7 linked regions of the Homo sapiens genome follow. The protein of the gene in region 5 purifies or fractionates together with the protein of the main gene of each other region. This does not show direct contact. Each region holds a gene or a part of one and is shown on either strand. Other genes may lie near its edges.

Evidence for each region.
Region 1: the proteins of AGTR1 (region 5) and GRK5 purify together in Homo sapiens (affinity purification with western blotting, with the first as the bait; one study listed by BioGRID). This does not show direct contact.
Region 2: the proteins of AGTR1 (region 5) and PIGU purify together in Homo sapiens (affinity purification with mass spectrometry, with the first as the bait; one large-scale study listed by BioGRID). This does not show direct contact.
Region 3: the proteins of AGTR1 (region 5) and RAB4A purify together in Homo sapiens (affinity purification with western blotting, with the first as the bait; one study listed by BioGRID). This does not show direct contact.
Region 4: the proteins of AGTR1 (region 5) and DCX purify together in Homo sapiens (affinity purification with mass spectrometry; 2 studies listed by BioGRID and IntAct, with this or other methods). This does not show direct contact.
Region 6: the proteins of AGTR1 (region 5) and TSPAN15 purify together in Homo sapiens (affinity purification with mass spectrometry; 2 studies listed by BioGRID and IntAct, with this or other methods). This does not show direct contact.
Region 7: the proteins of AGTR1 (region 5) and CLCC1 purify together in Homo sapiens (affinity purification with mass spectrometry, with the first as the bait; one large-scale study listed by BioGRID). This does not show direct contact.

The regions. Positions count from the first base shown.
Region 1 is NC_000010.11:119,445,071-119,448,570, reverse strand, and holds part of GRK5 (G protein-coupled receptor kinase 5), read right to left. Parts: intron 449-3,500; coding exon 311-448; intron 1-310. UniProt on the Homo sapiens protein: Serine/threonine kinase that phosphorylates preferentially the activated forms of a variety of G-protein-coupled receptors (GPCRs).
Region 2 is NC_000020.11:34,583,093-34,586,592, reverse strand, and holds part of PIGU (GPI-anchor transamidase component PIGU), read left to right. Parts: intron 1-1,012; coding exon 1,013-1,156; intron 1,157-3,500. UniProt on the Homo sapiens protein: Component of the glycosylphosphatidylinositol-anchor (GPI-anchor) transamidase (GPI-T) complex that catalyzes the formation of the linkage between a proprotein and a GPI-anchor and participates in GPI anchored protein biosynthesis.
Region 3 is NC_000001.11:229,302,111-229,306,394, forward strand, and holds the end of RAB4A (ras-related protein Rab-4A), read left to right. Parts: intron 1-751; coding exon 752-867; 3' UTR 868-879; intron 880-1,695; 3' UTR 1,696-3,784; downstream 3,785-4,284. UniProt on the Homo sapiens protein: The small GTPases Rab are key regulators of intracellular membrane trafficking, from the formation of transport vesicles to their fusion with membranes.
Region 4 is NC_000023.11:111,325,193-111,328,692, reverse strand, and holds part of DCX (neuronal migration protein doublecortin), read left to right. Parts: intron 1-3,500. UniProt on the Homo sapiens protein: Microtubule-associated protein required for initial steps of neuronal dispersion and cortex lamination during cerebral cortex development. May act by competing with the putative neuronal protein kinase DCLK1 in binding to a target protein.
Region 5 is NC_000003.12:148,739,403-148,742,902, forward strand, and holds part of AGTR1 (type-1 angiotensin II receptor), read left to right. Parts: intron 1-397; exon of another isoform or gene 398-554; intron 555-1,586; 5' UTR 1,587-1,633; coding exon 1,634-2,713; 3' UTR 2,714-3,500. UniProt on the Homo sapiens protein: Receptor for angiotensin II, a vasoconstricting peptide, which acts as a key regulator of blood pressure and sodium retention by the kidney.
Region 6 is NC_000010.11:69,503,465-69,505,815, forward strand, and holds part of TSPAN15 (tetraspanin-15), read left to right. Parts: intron 1-973; coding exon 974-1,021; intron 1,022-2,351. UniProt on the Homo sapiens protein: Part of TspanC8 subgroup, composed of 6 members that interact with the transmembrane metalloprotease ADAM10.
Region 7 is NC_000001.11:108,939,485-108,942,984, reverse strand, and holds part of CLCC1 (chloride channel CLIC-like protein 1 isoform 1 precursor), read left to right. Parts: intron 1-1,486; coding exon 1,487-1,580; intron 1,581-2,842; coding exon 2,843-2,940; intron 2,941-3,202; coding exon 3,203-3,349; intron 3,350-3,500. UniProt on the Homo sapiens protein: Anion-selective channel with Ca(2+)-dependent and voltage-independent gating. Permeable to small monovalent anions with selectivity for bromide > chloride > nitrate > fluoride.

The sequences.
Region 1 (3,500 bases), on a different chromosome or scaffold from region 5:
GAGTGTTACTGGTTTCACTGGACAGGGAGGAAACTGACGCTTAGAAGGAATCTGTCCAGGACCCCCAGACCTGGGAAAGTGCCCAAGTCTCTGGACAGCCAATGTGGGCTCCCTGGCCCACGCCTCTTCTGCACTGCCTGGCGTGAAGTTCATCTGCAGCTTAGGTGAGGAGTGGCCGGGAGGGGACCCTGGTCCCCACAAAGACACGATGTGCCCCACACTCTGCACCAGCTCACTGTGAGGCAGCACTCGGGGGCAGCCCTGGGTACCCTGTGAAGGGAGCTGCTGGGGGCTGGGGGAGGCTACTCACGTCTGGAACGAAGGGAGGGTCCAACATCCCGGCTTCTAAGCGCTTGAAGTTCATGTTCCTGAAGAAGGGGTGTCTCTTGACCTCTGCAGCCCCCTCCTCCTGGCAGCCCAGCCTCTGCTTCGCATCTTTCGTGAGCAGCTGAAACAGAGAGCCCCATGAAGCCACGTCCCCTGGGCCTCTCCTCCTGTCCGGACCTCCTGCCTCCACAGTGTCTGCACCATGCCTAGGAACCCAAGACACGCTGCCCCACCCTGCAAAGGTCTTGCTTCAGGGCTGCCTCTGAGTCTTGGCGTGCATCTGTGCTCACACACTCACAGCCTGGCTAGATGCCTGATGGGACAGGAGAGCAGGAATCTTGTTTCTCTCAGGATTACAGACCTCGTTCCTGGGTTATGGTGGGCACTCATTAATGGGTGTCGAGTCACTGTCACCTCTTCTGTGTAGGGTAAGCAACAAAAGGCAAGGACTGCATCAATAGCTCTGTCTCGTGCACATACTCAGCTAATTTGCAGAGTTGTACCTCCTGGGTGCAAGCCCCTTCCTGACAGAGAAGGCACCACCGAGGCACTTGGCCTCTAGGAGTGCTCAGACTCATGGGGGGCTAATCATGCTCAGAGGACGCATCAAGGTGATACAGATCGGGCACCCCGGGGGCAGGGGGCATGACTGGCTGCCAGCTGGAGGTCAGGGAGCTGCACGGGGAAGAGGTATTTAAGTTGAGTCTTGCAGGACAAATAGGCTTTCAAGGTGTGGGTAGGGGGAGGGGTATACAGGTAGAGGGAACTGCACCAGCAAAGCAGAGTGGCAGGACGTGCAGGGTGAGTCTGGGGAACACCCAAAACACGTTTGACTTAGAAAGCGGGAGGAGGGTGCAGAGATGGGTCAAGGGGAGGGGGCTGGTCAGGGAGAGATGATAGAGGATCCTGAAGGCCAGGTCAGGTGGCGGGATTTTCATCTGGAGGTAGAAGGAGCCAGGGATGGTTGAGGTAGGAGAGTGTCTTCATCAGAACCACGAGGCAGGAAGGTTACTAGGAGAGGAAGAGTCTTTGGGAGCAGACACCCAGGTGAGACGGGATGAGGCTATGAATGAGGCCAGAGGGCTAGACCTGCGCAGGGGGCCTTGACTAGCCATGGCCAGCCACACGACCACAGGGCCCCGGCCCCTGACCTGCACTCCCAGTGCCCCAGCCTCGTGATTCTCTCTTCTCCTCTGCCTTACTGAGCGCTGCAGCTGTACGCAGTTGGTGTCTACTAAGTGTCTGCTTTGAGGCTAAAATCCAGAGGAGCAGACTGCTTGGGGTAGGGGCCCAGCCTTGTCTTTTCCCAATGCCCTGTGCGCTTTGCTCATATTCATCCCATGTACACTTCCTGCTGGTCCTTGTGGGGCAGGCACTGCACCGGCTGGGGACGCCGGGGAGAGTGAGCAGCCAGACTGGCCTCTTGGGGCTCAGGGTCTGGAGGGGGCTGCCCCCCAAACAAAGGAATCGAAGGTGGCATCAGGGCCAGCACCAGGTTCCACCCTTGAAAGGACAAAGCAGAGCACTCAGTCGCTCAGTGTTGCCCCTTAACGCCCCCACGGACCACCAGGCTGGCGGCTCAGGGTCTGGCACTCATGCCTCTGCTTCTCTCTCTGGGGGCTTCACTGTTCAACAAAGGCTCAAGGCACTGGGTTGGGCTGGGCCCAGGTGCTGCACTGTTCTAAGCAGTCCCTCAGAGGCAAGTCTCCTTCTGCAGGGGCTGCAGCAGCTGGCCAGGAAGGTGGCACAAACGAGGATGAGAAAGGCGAGGGGTGGGCTGGGTGGGCCGGGCCGGGCTATGTGTCAGCTCCTGCCAGGTGGGACGGCAGCCAGGGCCTGGGGCTTCTGCTTTTCAAGAGAAGCCAGAAAATCCAGGTTATTACATGAAATCTCCTCATTTCTAAATCTTGGCAATGAACCTACCATTTACTTCTTTTGAAAAACCGTGTGCAGGTTGAACACCCGCCTATATGCTGCCATTTGAAACCCTGGCATCCAGTCAACAGTTTGCAGCCACATCGTCAGGTAAAGAGTTTGCAATCATGCTATCAGGTGGACACCAGGAGAAGTGAGAGGAAGAGAAGGTGTGAGCTGGGATGGGTGGGGCAGGCAGAGCGGGCTTCCTGGAGGAGGGGTACAGATGGGCTGGAAGGACAAGTGAGACCAAGACGGCTGAAAGGCAAGAGGGAGCTGGAGGGGGGCTAAGGCCCAGTGCTGGGACTGAGCAGGGGTTTGGGGAAGATGGAGGCTGAGGTCTGGGCCCATGGACTGGGCTCAGGAGACAAAGTGGTGAGATGTGTGAATTTCTGGGCTCCAGAGGAGGGGGAGTGGGTTCTGCGGCTGCTAAGGTAGAATGGGGGACAGACCTGGGGGCCAGAGACTGGCTTCCTCACTGATTGTGGAGGGACCCTCTTAGGCAGGCAGGGCTGGAGCCACCAGAGCCTAGAAATAGCCCTGTGAACCCAGGACCTGCGAGGTCTCCTGGCAAGTCAGGCTCTGCAGTGTCCTGAGCTGCCACCAGCTGGAGGGGACAAGGTAGGCCTAGATGCCGGAGATGCTGCAGTCAAGGGCGTGAAGGAGGCCTAAGACTAGACTCCCAAGACCAAAGATCATTTGTAAGGGAAGCCGCAGCAAGGCCAGAGGCTTCCAGAGGACAGTGGTTTTGTACCCACGGGACAGGTCCTCCGGGAGCAGCAGGCTTTCTCTCAGTGTCCACCAGGGGGCAGCAGAGGGACAGCAGCACCCTGGTCCAGGCTGCAGCAGGAGATCCCAGCTCCAAAGCCAGGGGCCAAGGTGGGTGTCTGGGGTCTGGGGGTGGGACTGGGGCCCTCTCCGCCTCGTCATCCTCTTAGTACGTCCCATATCCCTGCTGAGATCTCTCAAGACCTGCTTCTCTGATTGCCTGGCCCTGACCTGGGACATTTGGTGATGCTCTGCCCACGGCTGTCTGACCCCTTCTTCTTTCCCTTGTCTCGTTTTGTCGCACCTGACAGATATCTCCCAATGAGACAGCCAAGTATGGCTCACACCCACATTTCCATTTACCCGACCAGTGCTGCACTGCTCCTCCGGTCCCCCCACCCTAGCCCTGGCTGCGATGACCATGTGGCTTTCTCTGAGGCCCCAGCTGCATGGCGGGCCAACAGCTGTGGGGTTAGAGTGTGGGTCTGCTG
Region 2 (3,500 bases), on a different chromosome or scaffold from region 5:
AGACTCTTAAACCTGTGCATGTGTGGAAGGGATCTGAGTGGCAGAACTCCCATTTGGAATTCTGGACTGCTTATTTGTGTTAAATCCTGGCTGAGCATAACAATGACTTGCTAACTTCAGCTCTTCATGCTCTGCCTTAGATAGGAGTTGCGGTGCCAGGTGAAGAGTTCTTTCTCCTGGGCCACGGATTGTGTTCTTTACCTCATTTCCCAGAAAAGGAGGTATAGTTACAGCAAGAGGCAAAAGTTAACCTGGGCGGAGGCCTCAGTCAGGGAAATCTGACCAAGAGCCATCACTCATCTCTCCCTCTGCGTGCCCTATTTGTTGTCCTTTTTGAATTGTGTATTGAGATCAGTTTCAACTTCATATTTTTTTAAATCAAAAATGTAAACTTTAGGAGAGCCAGAATTGCAGCGAAATATTTGTCTGATTTAATTGGACAAAAAGTTTTCCAGTTAAACCCTAATTTCTCAATTAAGACTGGGACCCTGGGGATCTTAGCCAGAACCCACCGATTGTTCCTAAAGCCCCTAGAAGTCTCACTTCGGTCTCAGGCACTCGGTTTTCTGACTCCTGCTGTGGGGTGTGGAGTAAGAATGGGGAGGAGCAGGATCTTTGAGCGTGGTCCTCTAGGCAGGTCTTTAGAATGCCCAAAATAGATCCTGTGTTTTAAAACTCATTTGTTACAGTACTGGGTATCTCCTGATTTTAAACTGTCTTGCGCAGTAAAACAGGGGTGAGTCTCTTTATTCCTAGGATGAATCCCTGCCTCATTTCAGATTTGTTTGGCTTAGCTAATATTTGTTATGGGTTATCATTATATGTCTCTGCTCATTTTTGTTAATTACCTGTATCCAGGGTACCTAGAGAGCCCTTCCCATCCTGATCTCTCTAGGGAGAAAGTCGTCCTTGGCTGCCCAGCAGTGACCAAAGTCTTCAGGAGAAATCAAGGTCAAAGCAGACAATTTATAACTTTTGTCTTTTTTCTCTCCCTTTGTTTTCTTAATTCCAGACTTTCTGTTCCAGATCTCACTCCAAACATTGGTCTTTTCTGGTACTTCTTTGCAGAGATGTTTGAGCACTTCAGCCTCTTCTTTGTATGTGTGTTTCAGATCAACGTCTTCTTCTACACCATCCCCTTAGCCATAAAGCTAAAGTAAGTGGCTGGACCTGCTGCTGCTGTGTGTACAGAGCTGTCCGAGAAGCCCCTGCCTCTAGTAGCCTTGAGGGTGGCCTTCAAATGTGGAGCACCTGCTGTCAGGTTTAGAGCATCTCACCTAAGGAACCTGCCTTCAGTTGCCGCAGTTGCCAGCGCCATAGCAGGCAATAGAGTCGCATGGGTGCAGGCTGCAGTGAGGGTGCTTTGGAGCCCCAGCATTTTCCCTGGCCTCACTCTGAGGTGCTCAAGTCCACATTGCTGCTGAGCCCATTCACTGTTTTGGACTAGAGCCAGGCGGTGGCCAGGCATGGTGGCTCACACCTGTAATCCCAGTACTTCAGGAGGCTGAGGCAGGAGGGTCACTTGAGGCCAGGAGTTTGAGACCAGCCTGGACAACATAGCAAGATCCTGTATCTACAAAAAATTTAAAAATTAGCCAGGTGGCTGCCTGGGTGCAGTGGCTCACGCATATAATCCCAGCACTTTGGGAGGCCAAGGCGAGTGGATCACCTGAGGTCAGGAGTTGGAGATCAGCCTGACCAATATGGTGAAACCCTGTCTCTACTAAAAATACAAAAATTTGCCAGGTATAGTGGCGGGTGCCTATAGTCCCAGCTACTCTGGAAGCTCAGACAGGAGAATTGCTTGAACCCAGGAGGCAGAGGTCACAGTGAGCCAACATTGTGCCACTGCACTCCAGCCTGGGCGACAGAGCAAGACTCCATCTCAACAAAAACAACAACAACAACAACAAAAATTAGCCAGGTGTGGTGGTGTGCCCCTGTAGTCCCAGCTGCTTGGGAGGCTGAGGCAGGAGGATGACTTGAGCCCGGGAGTTTGAGGCTTCAGCGAGCTGCTTGTGCCACTGCACTTCTGCCTGGATGACAGGCGGAAGTGCATGTCTCAAAAAAAAAAAAAAAAAAAAAAAAGAACAGGAGTTGTGGAGGGGAGTGTGTTTGGAAAAAGTGTATCTGGTGGAATGTCTCCATCAACAGCCCAGTGACAGGTCCTCCACAGGGACTCTGGATGGTTTAGTTGGGAGGCTGGCCACCTGCAACTGTTTAATCTCCTGATCTGTTTCCCTCCAAAGGATGTGTGGAGTCCTCTTCTGCAGTCTAAGAGAGCTGATAGATGTTAGGCCTGCTCCATTCCAGGTGCCTTTCTAGACCCTCTGAAACATAATCATACCTAACCTAGCAACTCCTGGAGGTAGGCGTTAGATTCTTATCACTCCCATTTTATAGTTGAGGAAATCGATGCTCAGAGAGGTGGGATGATTTTCCCAGTCACACAGCTAGTAAGCAGTGGAGCTGGGATTTAGACTCAGGTTTGTCTGGCTCCAGAATCTATGCTTATCCCCCTGCACCATGCCAAGCTCCGGAGAGATTGCTTTTAGTAGCCTCCGGAAATGGTTCTATTATCCTAGCTTCAGATAAGGGAAAACAGACACAGACAGGTACAGATACGCCTAGATGGTCTGGGGAACCTGAAAGAGTTTGATTTAGGTTTCAAGAGCTCAAGTTCTCTGTCCTAACCTTCCTGCCATTCTCCATGGTCTGTGCACCAATGCACGTGGTTCCCATTCTGTAAAATCTCAAAAGCTGATGCTTCCTTCCCATGACACAGCCTTGGCCTGGCTTCTGACAGAACACCCTCCTTCCATGGCCTGGCAGGCTCCGGAACTCTGGCAGCCTTGCCCAGCTGAGCTCTCCAGCTGTCTGTGGTCCACCTTCCCTGTCCTTGTTCCGGTTAGGCCCAGCCATGGGGTGAAGAGGAGCAGGGATCCCAGGGCACCTTTCCGCACTGGCCGTGCAGCCAGCTCTCCGGCAGCTTTTATTGTCTGCATGCAAAGCCACACATTGCTCCTGGCTAGGCAATAATGTCACCATTTTATGACCTAAGCCAGGCCCACACAGTTGTGGGGACAGAAAATATGAAGAGACCTGCTCTCCCTGCTGTCTTCTCTTCTGCCTGGGTATGAAGCTCTACCTAAGCTCTCCTGCCCCCTGCAAGATTTGTTTCCAGTGCCAGCTTTGTAGGAACAGGGCCCTTCAGGCCACCCCAGTCCCTGTGCAGTGCTGCAGGAGGCTGTAGTCTGTTTTTTTGTCACCGCATTTTCACCAGCCTTTTCATAGAAATGTTGCCGTTGTTACCAGCTACCTGAAAAGCCTGAAGCCAGTGATGTGGATTGTGTTTAGGAAGATGTTCACACTGAGCTATAGCTGGACGCTTCTTAGAGGCTACAGGGCTGCACGCCTTTGCCAAGCTGCGTTTCTGAGGCACTTGCTGCACAGCAGCACTGGAGCATTCTGGGTGTGGACATGTTTGTCTGCACATCTCA
Region 3 (4,284 bases), on a different chromosome or scaffold from region 5:
CAAGTATTTTGGATAAGGACTGCTCAACCTATATTTGGATAAGGACCGCTCAACCTATGTGTTACCATAATTCATGAGCCAGTCTACTTTGGACATTTGGGTTGTTGCCAGTATTTTGCTATTATAAGTAATGTTACAGTAAATAATTATATATATATATATATATATATATATATATATATATATATATATATATATATTTTTTTTTTTTTTTTACATGTGCATGAGTCTGTGTGTCAGACAAATGCCCAGAAGTGGAATTGCTGGGTCAGAGAACATAAGCATTTGGGATCTTGGTGTAGAGGCTGTCACATTTTCTCCTAGTGATGGGCTTATTTCACTAAAGCCATGTCCACAGCATGTAGTATCATCATACTTGGACTTTTGGCCCATCTAATAAGTGAAAAATTATATCTTTGTAATTTAATTTTAAATTATTTTATATAAATAATGTATTCACATAATTTGAAATTCAAGAAGTATAAAAGAGTATGCAATGAAAAGTCCCCCTGTTACCACCCCCTCCTGTCCTCAGCCATCTAGAACTCCTCCGAATCAGCCGTTCCTTATGTATCCTGCTAGAGATGTTTTGTGCCGGTGCAAGCAAACATATATATAGTTTTTTCCCTTTATTCAGAATGGTGGGATATATACACAGTGTTCTGTACTTTGCTTTTTTTTTTTTTAATCTATTTTTGGAATCAAAGAAACATAAAAGCCTTTTTTAAAAGAAGACTTGCTTGGTCCTTAGGTGAGCTGGACCCAGAAAGAATGGGCTCAGGTATTCAGTACGGAGATGCTGCCTTGAGACAGCTGAGGTCACCGCGGCGCGCACAGGCCCCGAACGCTCAGGAGTGTGGTTGTTAGGAGAGCACACAGGTGGGTTTGGACACCTCCCTGCCCTGAGTTCCTGGCAAGCTCAAGTGCAGAGGCCTGTTAAAGCTTTGGGAAGCTGCAGTATGAAAAAGAGGGGATCCCAGCCGGGTGCAGTGGCTCTAATTCCAGCACTTTGGGAGGCTGAGGTGGGCCAGTTGCTTTAGTTCAGGAGTTCGAGACCAGCCTAGGCATCATGGTGAAACATCATCTCTACAAAATACAAAAAATTAGCCAGGCGTGGTGGCGTGCACCTGTAGTCCCAGCTACTCATGAAACTTAGGAGAATTGCTTGAGCCTGGGAGGCGGAGGTTGCAGTAAGCCAAGATCATACCACTGCACTCCAGCCTGGGCGATAAAGTGAGAACTGTCTCAGAAAAAAAAAAAAGAGAAGGAGAAGAACCCATAAGTTAAAGTTGGATGTTCTAACTGAAAGAATTTATACTCTATAGGAAATTCTTATGCTCTTGTTCAGAAAGAAAGGAAGGGCAGGTGGTGGTTGATGGGAAGGGTGAGATATCCTGATTCCTTATGTCAGTGAGGAGCCCTTCCTGGATTGATTGAGGTCTAAATGAATGTGCCTTTTGCTAAAACAGGAGGCCTATTTATAAAATTGACAAATGTCTCCCTTTAACTTTTTAAAGCTTCTTCTTTTTTCCCATTTACCACAGTGGACGTTTTATTTATAGTCGACATCATGTAGTAGGCACAGGCAAGTGTTAAAAGACAAGATATTCACGAATTCTCTTTTAGGCTTTAAGCTGTATTTACTTTTGCATTTATAGTTATGCAGATTTTGAAATTGTTCTTAATATTTTTTAGGTGTTCATACAGTGGCATTTGGGACACAATCGTTGGAACCTGAAGAATCTGAAGTTTTTTTTACCACCATCTTTTTCTACTCTGTATGGAAGTAGATCTTTATGGGGAAAAGAGAATTTGGGGTGTTCTGCAAGCCAGTCAAAGTGGCACAGCAAATCATATAAATCGAATTAAATGGACAACACCGTTAGATGTGTATGTAAAAATTTTCTGTTTCATATTTTTCCTTTCACTTTCGGTTTAAAACATGCTATATGTACTGTATGTCCTGTAGCCCAGTGCGGCTCCACAGCATGGAATCTGATGTATGATATGATAGAATGTGGCACTAAATGCAGTTTCAGATTTTATTTTTTTTAATCATATGAACTAAAATTGTCAATTGTGAGGTGTGCTTTTCTCATCATGTTGGTTATATTGCACAATTGGTTATATTTATGACCTGATATTCAAAGACTCTGGCATTGATAGCCAGTGTGTTTTCTTATTTAACTCCGTTTACTACATTCTACATGGTGTTTACGTGATCCACACTTGAAATACTAGATCAGTAGACATTCACTAATATACCAAAATAAAATGAAAAATTGAGTTTTTCCGTGAACTTTATACTGTCCAGCTCTGTTGATTTTAAAGCCTCTTCATCCAGGTCAGTTCAGGAAGTATATCTGGAGTACCTGCTCTGTTTTTGGCTGTGAGACTAGCACTAAGGATTCTGGTACCTTTACCCAAACCTACTGGGCTACTAATACTTCTCTCAGCAGTTGATCAAATACAATAGACCATGTAAGCTGGGGCCGCTCATCCACTTCCAGTTTGCTGGTCTCCCTGCTAGAAAACACATTGTACTGTGCTTTTTCTGGAATTCAGTATAATGGCATCACTGCCTGTTTTTCACATCTTTTGTTTCCTGTTCATTTTAAGGAAACCTACTAAATCCAGTTAATATTAAATGGACACCACTCATTAAGAAATTTCTTTATGGCTTCTGCTGAATACTTAAATGCCTTACTACAGTTATCCAGTTGACATGTTTTTAATTCATATAAGGTATATTGGGTATATTGAAGTATATATTGTATTACAAAGACTTGTTCTTGTATTTTAAAATGTCAGTGCAAAAAATATATGGTGGAACCTTTCTTTAAAGTTGAAATGCAGTATTATTTAAATCTGAAAGGTTAAAAAGCTTTCTTCACCTTATATATGTTCTTCCACTGTGACTTTTTAGTTGAAGACTAGTAAATTAACTTTTAGTTAGAAGATGCCTACTGCTTTTGTTGTTTATTTTAATCAGCAGAGCACAGAGACACATAAAAACTCTGGGAAATGACTAGGATAAAAATATCAGTATGTATCTGTTTTAGATATTTTGAGTTTTGCTTTTTTTATGCCTTGAATATTTTATTTCAAAAAGTATCTGAAGCAAATTCTCAGACTGAACTACTTCTTAGACCTCACTGTAAGAATATTTTATTCAATGTCTCATTTATGATAGATTTGCAAGCTGCTCATTTTTGAACAGCTTTTTGCATGGGATAGGAGCATGTCTATTCTAACACATCAGCTTATTCAAAAGCAAGAATTTTAAAAATAAGATAAATGTAAAGTTGTTTTATAAACGATCCTGTTAATTAAACCACAGACACCATATATCCTTCTGCATCCTTTGGCCAATAAAAGTTGCTGGAGAACCAAACCATGGTGGTTCTTAATCAGGCTTTGCCTTTAGGGAGAATGAGGAGGAGAGATAATTGGGTATTGTTCAGGCTAGTAATAAATGTCATGTTTCTATTTCCCGCAACTCATTAAGTTTTCAGGAAGCTCTTAATTTAGATTTCTAGGAAAGTAATTATTCAGTCTTCCTAGAAAAAGATTATAAAGACCATTTAAACTGGAGATTGTAATTTATTCTTTTACAGTCCAGCATTTAAGTGAAAATGAGAACATCACAATTTGGGAATCTGTAATGGTTTTGTTGAAAACATTACTTGTGGCTTGTATAAGAGTGGCTGAATTCAAGAACATTGATTCTTAGCAGATCAATAATAGTATTTAAAGAATCTGATGCTAAAATTAGAAACCTAAATGATTTGTAATTTGTACTGTGACACAGCAGATGATGTTTCCTTATTTTCTGACATCTTTTTATGTTTTTGGAGAGGCACATTAGAGGTGCTTTAAAAAAAACCTGTGAATTTTTAATATTTTGTGGTGCCATTTGTGAAGCACCTCTTTCCTGATCCATCTAACTACTCCTGTACGTACAGTCTGAGTTTGTCCCACTTGTTGACTTGGTTACTTCCCTATTGTATTTATTTCTTTAAAGGGTTGTTTTAGAATTTTAGAGGAATTTATCTGAGAACACAAGATCTACCACTTTCAGTAGGACAAGTGACCCAAGTTGTTGGTCACCAGCCTCAAAGTTTAGAAAACACTACCTACTACCTACTGATAGAAAATAATGTGGTTAGGGAATCTGTTTTTTTCTTTTAAAAGAGCATTTATGTACTTTTTTCCTTCATATATCCCCCTCATTTTTTTTCTTTTTCTTTCTTTTTTTTTTAATTTTATTTTTTGTAGAGACAG
Region 4 (3,500 bases), on a different chromosome or scaffold from region 5:
ACTGTCACTTCTCCTTTATTATATTCATTGGAAGCAGTCACTAAGTCCAACCTACATTCAAAGAGAGAGGAACCAGACTCTATTTATTAAAGGAAAGAGTGTTGAAGAATTTGTAGATCTGTTTTTAAACCACCATATAACCCATCAGTTAGAAATTCTCAGGTGGTATCAGCTTGAAGTAAATAGATCCTCTTTGCAGACTGCATCCAATTGGTTACCCAGCACACATGAACACAACTACCTATAACTACACAGTTTAAATCTATGTCAAATCATTGATCTCCAGAATGCCACCTACAGAATTTCCCTTCTACAAAATATGCACCTCAGTGACTCTAAAATATCAGAGATATAACGTGAATATATTAGAACTCAATGAATATTTGTCAAATTGAAGGGAGTTACAATATAAGAGATCCCAACCCAGGCTTTGGCAGGCAAGATCTGCTCTTGCTTTTTCATAACTCCTTCACTAAAAAAAAAGAAAAAAAGAAATGAGGATTTATTCCAACCCACACGATAAACAGAGTAACCAATTTGGGTGTATGAGGGGAATTTGCTTGGCAGATAGCAGAATTACAAATAACCTCTGTTTCCTACCACCAATCTAACATGGTGTTCTCAGTTTAAAGAATTGGAATATTCATTTATATTCTGATGTTCATGAACATAAATGAAGTCAAACCCTAGTCTAGACAATCTTTATGGCAATTGCCAGAATGTTTGGGCTCATCTCAGATAATGTGTCTATAGCCTCCTCATGATTCCAACCCTGAAGGGCTGTAACATAACCAAGCCCATTTCATCGGAGTTTGTTTAAAGCCTAGTCCAAGGCATCCATTCAGTGAACATTCCATAAGGGCAAAGCTGATCTCAGGCAAAACAGTACCTTAGCTAAAGTTTGGATTTGCTATACCCATTTTCCCTCTCCACTTCCACCTCACTCAGGACCATTCCAAGCTGGGACGAGGAGATTGGTAAGATATGAAAGAGGAGAGGGAGATGACTCTCTAAGAAGTCCCAGCTACGCCACTTCCTAGCTTTGTGATTTGTGCAAGATTTTTGCCTTTTCTGAGATTCGATATCATCGTTAGATAATTCAGAATTTGAATCTCTATAGATAAGGATAATTTTCCATTGTTATCAGTTATTTACAATTTACAGAGTTGTAAAATAGCTCCCACAGAAACAAAAGCGGATAACCAGAATGATAAGCTATAGACAGTGCATACTTTTCATATGGCATAAATTTCTCCTTACAGACATTTGAGATTTAAAAAGTAACAATTGTTTCATAAAATGTCAATTTTTTTTAGCTGTTAGCCAGGGACATGTAGAGGTTAAAATACACTTAACCAAATGATAATAGGTTAGGTGGGGCAAACAGGCTTTGTTCATTTCTAGGACATGGTAGTACCACCCTGTTTCCATCCTGTGTTAGTCAGTCTTGGATGTGGAACTTGTGAACAGATTTATAAAACTTCTTTCAACCTGAGTAACAAAAGACTCTTAGAATCCAAGTCTATGGAAGATAGACCAATGGAAGATTGTCTTCCTTTGAAGACAAAAGAAAGACCAAAAGTGCTCCTCTTTAGCAGGAATTCTAACCAAATGAAACATTGGCTGGGTTCAGGTTCAGTTTAAGGAATGTTTTGATGTTCTACTTCATTGGAAAATATACAGGTTTGATTCTGGTTTGAACAAGTTTGCTAGATATCTATATCTATATCTATATGGTCAAATTCATGGTTCAGTTAATAGCTAGGTTCATTCTGACTTGAGGTTTAGTAAATTGATGCTATTTGGTCTGTAATTTGTGCTATAATTTGATTCTTTATTCCTTAGTCTTTAGACCTTAAGTTGTCCCTTTCCTGTTCTGCCCCATGAATAAATCAAATCCTTCTACTTTATTTCCTTCAAGTTCAATCCTCACTTCTGCCAATATTGAGTTTGCCCCAAATGGAATGTCTGTTGCTAAGCCCTAAACTCAAGTTAAGTAAGGATTTTGTTGTCTATATAATATTTCTGTAAGGAGCTCATTTTCACCGGGCAGAACTGATGGACTCTTAGAATCCAAGTCATATTAGCTATGTCTGTCTTTAAATCAGGCCATGGAACTGTGGTAAAAAAGATAAAATCTGAGCCCAGGAGGCTCCTATGGGATATTTGAAAAAAGCTTATGCAGTGCCACACTTTGATTAACCCCGGACTTGCCATTTTGATGAGCGAAGGTAAGCCTGGCTTCAGAACTAAAGAAAGACATGTCTCTCTCTGTTTCCATTTCAGCCATTAATGTGTTAATTTTCCCTTTATGTAACTTTGTCCCCAGTTGAATTGAATTGAATTAAAAGGACAAAATAGCTAGTTGCTGGGAAGGAATCTTTCTCTTTCTTTCTTTTTTTTTAAGGAGCCCCCGAAGGAAGCTAATTACCCACCCTGGTAGGCTGAGAGAATTGTAATGTGATAATTAGTTTGCTATTCTTCAACAGTAAGTCATTGTTGTAGCAATCCAATGTTCTCCATTCCCCTTCCCCCAACTCATGTGCACCTATTTCTGAAAGTCCGATCTTTTCCGTTCCCAAATTCATAAGAAAGAAAGCCTTCTCTAACAAAATATACAGCCTTTAGAAGGGGAGGTCAAGGGACACAAAACAGCAGGGTTCATGAAAGACCTGTATCCCAGGGTCCTTCTTTTCTGAAACTAGTAGGCTGCTTTGGGTTGCCTAAGATAGAGGGACTTGGTCATTCTGACCTTCCTGAAAGTGACTGTCTAGACCAGCTCTGCTCAATAGAAATAGAATGTGAGCCATAAATGTAAATCATGTATGTGATTTTACATTTTCTAGTAGCCACATCTTAAAAAGTTAAAAAATGGGCAAAATTAATTTTGACATATTTCATATAATGATACATTCAAGATATTATCATTTTAACATATAATTAATGTAATAAATTACACATTCTTTGAAATTGAGTTGTATTTTACACTTACAACGTATCTCAGTTCTGACTAGCCGCACTTCAAATGTTCAACAGCCATGTGACTATTGGCTACTGTTTTAAACAGCACAAGAATACCTTTCTTCTCTAGCTAAGAGAGATTCATGATAACAATCTTTTTACGTGAATTAGATGCTATGCACTTTGCAAAATATTTCCAAATCTATTACCTCAGTTGTTCCTCATAATTGCACTATGAATTAAGTTGGAAATTGATAATTATCTTTTTTTTTCATTGGGGAACTAAGATACAAAGTTTAGGATCTTGGGATCTTCCATGTCACACATTACTTAGCACCCAAGAGCCAGAACATCGCTCTCCTGACTTCCCAACAAGCATTATTCGCAGTGTCCCACTGACACACAGTAGTTAGTATGTGGGATGTGCTGTCTGGTGAATGCAAAGGTCTACGTTGGATGGTCCTTGCTTCTTGGCTTCTTTTCCCCTTCTCCCATCTCCAGGCTAGGGAGGTGGAAAGGCAAGGGGTGGGTTGGTGTCT
Region 5 (3,500 bases):
AGTGCTCAAAAAAGTTGGGAAGGCTTCACCAAAGATGTGACATTTAGGGTAGATAACACCTGTTTGTGGATACTAATGTCCTGGTGAGTCAAAGAAGAAAAGGATGTACATTATATAAGCTGGATGCAAAAAGGAACAATAATGAGGACATGCAACCAAAAACTTACATAGGGAGAACAACTTTACTTACTCAGGGAAGGCAAAGAGACCACTTAAGAACTCCTTCACATGTGTTATGTCTTAAAAGCTGACTACTGGAGTTGTATCCCTTGCACAGCATCCCTTTGCACCAAAGTGAACACTACTCTAAGAACATGTGTTCAGCTCTCCTGAATGCCAAGCACAACCATGCTTGGCATGGCAGTGGTGTCTTATTTCTGCTCCTCTTTTTCCCCAGGGCATGCCATTGCAAGAGAATGCTCAGCCATGTTCATCTGGGGACCTGCTCCTGGTAGAGCAATAGGATCTGTGTGCCCAGCACCACTGCCCACCTAGCTGTCCTGGCCTGTGCCCAATGCTGACCTTCACCTCAGAGTGTGGCTGTACCACATTCGGTGATGTCACTCTCACTGAACCTTCAGCCTCCTTCCTGGGACTTCCTGATGGACTGTTATCCAGGGCAGAATGTGTTGATTTTCTAAATCACATAAATGAATAGCTTGACTGTTGATTATGTAGAAAATCAGAGCAAATATTTGCATGGCTTTGTGCAGCCCATTCTTGAGCATCTGATTCTCCCCAGAATTCTAAAAAACCTGCTGCTTTCTCAAGCCCTCAGTAAAGACATGCTTTCTTGATAATCCTAGCCAAACCTATTCATTTGACATCTTTGTTACACAAATGGTTAACCACAGAGTTAACTTCAGAAATGGCTGGCAGGTATGAAGGTTAGAAGATTCATGCACTTTTGCTAGACTGAATTGGAAGTTAAAGAGTAAGTAGTTACTGACTGCAGAGGCCTGGAAAACCATGGAAAAAATCCTATTCCTCAAAGTCGAGCCCTACCTCCTACGCCTCTTAAATCAATTGCCACAGTGACCAATTTGTCAGTCACCTAAAGGCAGCTATCCTGACCACTTAAGGGAGAATACTTATAATCTTTATACCTAAGTAAAGATTGTGAGAGGAAAGAAATGGTTTAAAGAATATGAATGTGTCACACTTCTGAGGTTAATGATAAATGAATTGGTCCTGCTTACCTCAGGAAAAACTTTCAAGTCTTTCTGAAAAACTAATTTAATTCAGTAGTATTTTCTAAGATTTAGGTTATGTTTTTAATCAATTTGGAAACCAAGATTTACTTATAGAAAAAAAGGAAAAGGACCTAGATAGGTTTATTCACATAGAATCCCAATTTCACTTCTCTGGATGATACCATTTTCTACAAAAGCAATTATGTTCTAAAATTTAAGTGTGCTTTCTTAGGCTTTATCAGTTCACAGTGTTTCCTTAAGAAATATGATCCAGTATTTTTTCCTAAGACTAAAGTTGAGTTACTACGTTTATGACTGAGAAATGAATGTTTGTTAGTTTGTTTGTTTACAATAAGAATTTTTTCTTTACCATTTTATTTTTATTTTCCCCAGGTGTATTTGATATAGTGTTTGCAACAAATTCGACCCAGGTGATCAAAATGATTCTCAACTCTTCTACTGAAGATGGTATTAAAAGAATCCAAGATGATTGTCCCAAAGCTGGAAGGCATAATTACATATTTGTCATGATTCCTACTTTATACAGTATCATCTTTGTGGTGGGAATATTTGGAAACAGCTTGGTGGTGATAGTCATTTACTTTTATATGAAGCTGAAGACTGTGGCCAGTGTTTTTCTTTTGAATTTAGCACTGGCTGACTTATGCTTTTTACTGACTTTGCCACTATGGGCTGTCTACACAGCTATGGAATACCGCTGGCCCTTTGGCAATTACCTATGTAAGATTGCTTCAGCCAGCGTCAGTTTCAACCTGTACGCTAGTGTGTTTCTACTCACGTGTCTCAGCATTGATCGATACCTGGCTATTGTTCACCCAATGAAGTCCCGCCTTCGACGCACAATGCTTGTAGCCAAAGTCACCTGCATCATCATTTGGCTGCTGGCAGGCTTGGCCAGTTTGCCAGCTATAATCCATCGAAATGTATTTTTCATTGAGAACACCAATATTACAGTTTGTGCTTTCCATTATGAGTCCCAAAATTCAACCCTCCCGATAGGGCTGGGCCTGACCAAAAATATACTGGGTTTCCTGTTTCCTTTTCTGATCATTCTTACAAGTTATACTCTTATTTGGAAGGCCCTAAAGAAGGCTTATGAAATTCAGAAGAACAAACCAAGAAATGATGATATTTTTAAGATAATTATGGCAATTGTGCTTTTCTTTTTCTTTTCCTGGATTCCCCACCAAATATTCACTTTTCTGGATGTATTGATTCAACTAGGCATCATACGTGACTGTAGAATTGCAGATATTGTGGACACGGCCATGCCTATCACCATTTGTATAGCTTATTTTAACAATTGCCTGAATCCTCTTTTTTATGGCTTTCTGGGGAAAAAATTTAAAAGATATTTTCTCCAGCTTCTAAAATATATTCCCCCAAAAGCCAAATCCCACTCAAACCTTTCAACAAAAATGAGCACGCTTTCCTACCGCCCCTCAGATAATGTAAGCTCATCCACCAAGAAGCCTGCACCATGTTTTGAGGTTGAGTGACATGTTCGAAACCTGTCCATAAAGTAATTTTGTGAAAGAAGGAGCAAGAGAACATTCCTCTGCAGCACTTCACTACCAAATGAGCATTAGCTACTTTTCAGAATTGAAGGAGAAAATGCATTATGTGGACTGAACCGACTTTTCTAAAGCTCTGAACAAAAGCTTTTCTTTCCTTTTGCAACAAGACAAAGCAAAGCCACATTTTGCATTAGACAGATGACGGCTGCTCGAAGAACAATGTCAGAAACTCGATGAATGTGTTGATTTGAGAAATTTTACTGACAGAAATGCAATCTCCCTAGCCTGCTTTTGTCCTGTTATTTTTTATTTCCACATAAAGGTATTTAGAATATATTAAATCGTTAGAGGAGCAACAGGAGATGAGAGTTCCAGATTGTTCTGTCCAGTTTCCAAAGGGCAGTAAAGTTTTCGTGCCGGTTTTCAGCTATTAGCAACTGTGCTACACTTGCACCTGGTACTGCACATTTTGTACAAAGATATGCTAAGCAGTAGTCGTCAAGTTGCAGATCTTTTTGTGAAATTCAACCTGTGTCTTATAGGTTTCCACTGCCAAAACAATGCCCGTAAGATGGCTTATTTGTATAATGGTGTTACTAAAGTCACATATAAAAGTTAAACTACTTGTAAAGGTGCTGCACTGGTCCCAAGTAGTAGTGTCTTCCTAGTATATTAGTTTGATTTAATATCTGAGAAGTGTATATAGTTTGTGGTAAAAAGATTATATATCATAAAGTATGCCTTCCTGTTTAAAAAAAGTATATATTCT
Region 6 (2,351 bases), on a different chromosome or scaffold from region 5:
TTCATTCATTCATTTTCTCAGTTAACAAATATGTATTGAGTACCTCTGCGTGCCAGTTCCTTAGCAGCCCACCTAAGGTTGGGCTCTGCTCCTAAGTGGCAGAGCAAGATCTGGACCCAGGAAATGTGACACCAGAGGGCACGCTGGGGGCTCTGCTGTTGCCCTCCTGAGTCATCACTGGCGCCTGCAGCACTCACGGCAGCGTTCACTTACATGTAGAGCAGCGGGGCTGGGGGGGACGGTCATGGGCTGGACCAGGAAGTCTCACTCTCTTCCCTGGTGGTTGGAGAAGGAGACCCTGCGGGGCACAGGTGGTGATGGGAAGTGCCCGCGGCAGCCTGTGAGTTAGGGCCTGCCTGGGGAGGGGTTTGATGAGGTCTAGGGCGTGACCACAGGTTTCCCTATGCCTAAATTAATCAGTAGTCGGGAGTTCTGGAGAGCACCTCTCTTCCCAAGAAGGAAGTTTTGGCAGCACTCTCCGCTGGTGGAGCAGTGGTCTATGGAACGGAAGCATGGCCAGGGGCCCTGCCCTGGACCTCAGGTAAACCACAGCTGACCCTGTGCCAGCTGTAGTCTGAAGTTTTCCTCCCCAAGAGCCAGCGGCGCAGGAACAGCCCCACCCCGACCTCTGAGACGGTGTGAGCAAAGCGGTGCTCTGGGGCGGTCATAGCCCGGGAGCGTGGGCAGCACACCTTTCTCTGGGGTCCTGATCTGCTGCTAGTGGAGGGGTGGTTCTCCCAGGTAAAAGTCATGGAACCTGCATTCCTACAGTTTTTTCACGGGGCATTTCTTGGAGGAGGAGGTGGTTATGATGGAGACTCAAGCCAGACTGCCTGGGTCGGAATCTCAGCTCCATCCCTGCTGGACGGTGCAACTCTGTGCTTCGGTTTTCATCTGTAAAATGGGTAGGATAATAGTGCCTTTTTGAGTTAGAACCATTATAAATATTAGCTATTATACATTTCCATTTCAGACAGAAGTTGTCAACACCATGTGTGGCTACAAAACTATCGACAAGGAGGTAATGTCTTTGAAATGCCTTTCCCTGGAAATGTTGCTCTTCCTGGTCCACCCTGGGGTGATCGGAGGGGTTTATTGAGGTCGGGGTCCTGGCCACTGAGATTTTCCCACATTCCTGGCTGTGACCCAGAGCCAGGACTGCTGTGGTTTTCCACCCCAGCACAGAAGGGCTCAGGGAACCAAGAATTCCCCCAGGCTGGGAGATGCCGCCTGTCAGGGTTTGCCGAGCACCTACTGTGGGCTGTTCCACATGAAGCCACCACGGCGCTTCCTGGTACCCGCAGCGTGCTGTGTGCCCAGCCATGCTCAGCACCAGCTTGCCTCTGCCCCTGGGGCCACCTGGGACCCAGGAGTCCTAGAGGATGGTAACCCCCTCTGGGGGTTGCTCCTGGGTCAGCTTCCTGGGCAACACCCCTGGTCTAGGAGAGAAGCAGGGGTGGTGCTGAGAAGGGACCTAAAAGGAATAGTGACCTGACATGCAGAGCAGTGGCTTTCAAAGTGGGGTCCCCAGTCCAGCAGCAACAGCATCCCCTAGGAATGTGAGAAATGCACATTCTTGGTATGGGGCTAGTGGGTGATTCTGACACATGCTTGAGAGCCATAGACCAGCAGTGGTTCTCAGCCCCTCAGAACCAATGGCCATTTTTATAACAAACAGTGGTAATGTCCTATTTATTATCCCCAAGTGAAATTCACAGATAACCTACCTACATGCCCAATTCCAATACAATTAACATAATGATCTGAGATAAAGTAGAAATGAAATACAGCAATTTACAGCTGTTTAACATAGTTCATCATGTAAGTGCTTAGGCAGTGGGGGGTGCAGAAGACACAATGTAGTCAGGTGTCTGCACTGATGTGAGGCATCCCTGAGGCTGTAGTAGCTACAGGGCAGCTGATACTGGGCATTGTGTTGGCGACTCACATACCATGGGCATCATTTTTGCCACTGGCATGGTTTTTAAAAACGGTGAACAATTCTTGATAAAGTTCTGAATTAAATAATGTGTAATCATTCCTTAATTTACCTAGTAGTACTTCTGGAAAATTCTTTGTATATTAAAACCAATGCAGAAATGCTTTTTTTTTTTTTTTCCCTTAAGAGACAGACAGGGTCTCACTGTTGCCTAGGCTGGCCTCAAACTCCTAGGCTTAGGCACTCCTCCCAACTGAGCCTCCATAGTAGCTGGGACTGCAGGCACTGGCCACCATGCCCAACTCTGCTTTGTTTTTTATATGTACCTGGAGTGGGGCTATTGGCTTGGATAATTATAAATAGGCTTTTCATGTATGGAAAACATCCGTGAGGCTTTTCATGCAGGGACATC
Region 7 (3,500 bases), on a different chromosome or scaffold from region 5:
AAGATTGCGCTGCTGCACTCCAGCCTGGACCACAGAGTGAGGTCTGTCTCAAAAACAAGGAAGAAAAAAAAAAGAATAAAGCTATGTGGATACATTTAAAAATTATCATGTAGGTAATTTAGAGTATGTCATTCTATGTCTTTGCTAGAAATGATACCAAAATATTATTTTTTAAAAATTAGGTTATTTTTTGAATAAGTGGTATATTCATGGCAGAGAATTTAGAAAAGGCAGATACAAGGAAATTAATTTTTAAAATAACCTATAATTTTATCACCTAGAGAAAATCTGTCAGTAGTTTAAGGTATTTCTTTCTAGATTTTTCTAGATTTTAATTATCTTTCAAAGTTGGGATCATACTGTATATAGAAATTGGAAAGGACCACTACTGTTCCCATCAACATAGCATAAATAATAATCATTGAAAGAAAATTTTAGATCTTTCTAGCAGAGTGAGTCAAGTAGCCAAGTATTTTCAATGATTTCATCTGGTTAAAGCATTGTGACATTTCCTTAACCTTTTGCTGTAAGTATTATAGTATTTAGAACTAATTATTTACAAATTAAACACAGATTCTGTGTGGAAGGAAAGTTGCTTGAGTATTGTCACCTTAATGATTGTATATTGGTCATTGTACTGGAAATTATCCAGTGCAAAATAGGATATCATCAACTATAAAAGAAAATAAGAAGTAGTCATTTAATTTGTATGGCTAGAACTAATTGTTGTTGTTGTTGCTGTTGTTTTTGAGACAGTCTCACTCTGTCCCCCAGGCTGGAGTGCAGTAGTGAAATCTCGGCTCAATGCAACCTCCACCTCCCGGGTTCAAGCGATTCTCTTGCCTCAGCCTCCTATCTGGGACTACAGGCCCGTGCTATCACGCCTGGCTGAACTAATTTTTAAAAACAATATTTTTAGTAAAGTTTCCCTTTTTCATTATAATTACTTACAGAGAAGGCAATTGTAGTTAGTACTTTATGCTTACTTGTTGCATTAAGGCTGTACTTTTCCATGAACTGGAAATAGCTACTCTTTACAAATAATATGTTTTCCTATAATCCTAGCACTTTGGGAGGCTGAGGCGGGCGGATCACTTGAGGTCAGGAGTTCAAGACCAGCCTGGCCAACATGATGAAACCCCGTCTCTACTAAAAATACAAAAATTAGCTGGGCGTGGTAGCGGGCACCTTTAATCCCAGCTACTCGGGAAGCTGAGGCAGGAGAATCGCTTGAACCCGGGAGGTGGTGGTTGCAGTGAGCCGAGATTGTGCCACCGCACACCAGCGTGGGTGACAGGGCGAGACTCCGTCTCAGGAAAAAAAGAGAAAAAATAGTAATAATAATATGTTTTTTTTTAATTAAAAATTTATAACAGTCTGGTTTGGATGAATGGTAAAGACACTCTTTGAATGAAGGTCTTTTGGATGTGTAGGCCTAACCTTCATAGGTAACGGCCTCTCCTGGTTCCCTTTTGGTGTTGGGCAGCTAGCTTTTGCACAGCATCAGGCTGAAGTCGCCAAGATGGAGCCATTAAACAATGTGTGTGCCAAAAAGATGGACTGGACTGGAAGTATCTGGGGTAAGGTGTTTGTGCACTTGTCCTTATTTTGAATAGAAATTCTGAGAATGAAAGAACATAGAACAAAGAGAATGATAAAATAACAGGAGGCTTTCCATGACTGAATCTTTAATATCAGAAGAACATGCAAGAAGCATTTTAGGTTTAAAACCAGTGACTTTTTATGCTCATCTAAAGTCACAGGGAAGGAATAGAAGTTGTATATATGTTGGCTCTGATATTATCTGTCTTCCTTCATAAGACTGTGTGAAGGATCCTATGCTCGCTTTTGTTCATCTCGTTCTTTGCACAGGGTCTGGCATATTCTCAATAGAAGTTTATTAAACAAGTGAATGAATGTATATATGAATTAATATCCATCTTAAATTTAATGGCCTTATATTGACTTGTGAAATTTTATGTTGTAGCTTTACTTTTTTTTAACTACGGGAAAAATTAGTTTTTTTATTCTTTCACATTTTATAAACATTCTCATGAATGTTCACTACCTTTGGTTGTATGTATCTAGCAATGGGGATGGTTTAATAATGTTCCAAGGCATTTTATAAATGCAAGTCCATGACTGACACGGAATTCTGCAGATGGAATCCAAAATAAATGTTTCTTAAAAAGTTGTGGGAACTAAACCAATTCAGCCTTCCTTCCTGGCTTCAGTGGACAGTGAAATGCCTCCTCTAGCTCAGGCTAGTTTCCCAACGTATATAAGCCTGATTTGGAAAAATTAGAACTAATATTCCACTTTATTTTGTAAACTCCATAAAGAACTGACTTTTTAAATTAAAAATTTACTGAGGTAATTGTGGATTCACACAGTAAGAAATACTACAGAGAGAGCCCGTGTACCCTTTCCCCATTTTCCTCCAGTGGTGACATCTTGCACAGCTTTAATAGTACAATATCAGAGCCAGGATATTGACTTTGATACAATCCACCAGTCTTATTTCGACTTCCCATTTTACCTGTACTCATTTGTGTTTGTGAAGCATTGCTTTTAAAGTGTTTACCTTTTAGACATTTTTATAAAATACAATTTTTTATCTGCATAAAACATGTATAATTTGAATGGATTTTTAAAACATGATTTTGGACATAAGATGAAAAATTTAAAAATCAGCATTACAGGGAGTCTACTTAAAACTTAAGATAATTTAAAACTCATTGGTGGGTGGTCAGGGAGGGTCAAAACCAAAGTAATGTCTTGTTTGGGAATGAAATGCAACATTAAAAGAAATGATCAGTGTTTTGTCTGTTTCTCTAAACAGAATGGTTTAGAAGTTCATGGACCTATAAGGATGACCCATGCCAAAAATACTATGAGCTCTTACTAGTCAACCCTATTTGGTTGGTCCCACCAACAAAGGTATAGCATATATTTTGTAAAAATTACTTAAAGTCAGTCAGAAATCCCTTGTATTTTAAAGAACTTTAGTGTTTGAGTCATTTTGCTAATAAGCGTTTGTCCAAGAAAAAATACTTTTGCACAGTGATTTTCACATTAAAAATGGCACAACAGCATTTTAATTTATGTAACATACTTTCAGCATCAGTACTCAATGAATTTTGATGCATTCTGTACCTTAGTCCTGTGAGGAGAAAATTAAGTTGCTTTTCTCTCGTTTTAGGCACTTGCAGTTACATTCACCACATTTGTAACGGAGCCATTGAAGCATATTGGAAAAGGAACTGGGGAATTTATTAAAGCACTCATGAAGGAAATTCCAGCGCTGCTTCATCTTCCAGTGCTGATAATTATGGCATTAGCCATCCTGGTTAGTATTAATATATTAGCACTGTCGGGCCAGGCGCGGTGGCTCACGCCTGTAATCCCAGCACTTTGGGAGGCCTAGGCGGGCGGATCACGAGGTCAGGAGATCGAGACCATCCTGGCTAACACAGTGAAACCCTGTCTCTACTAAAAAA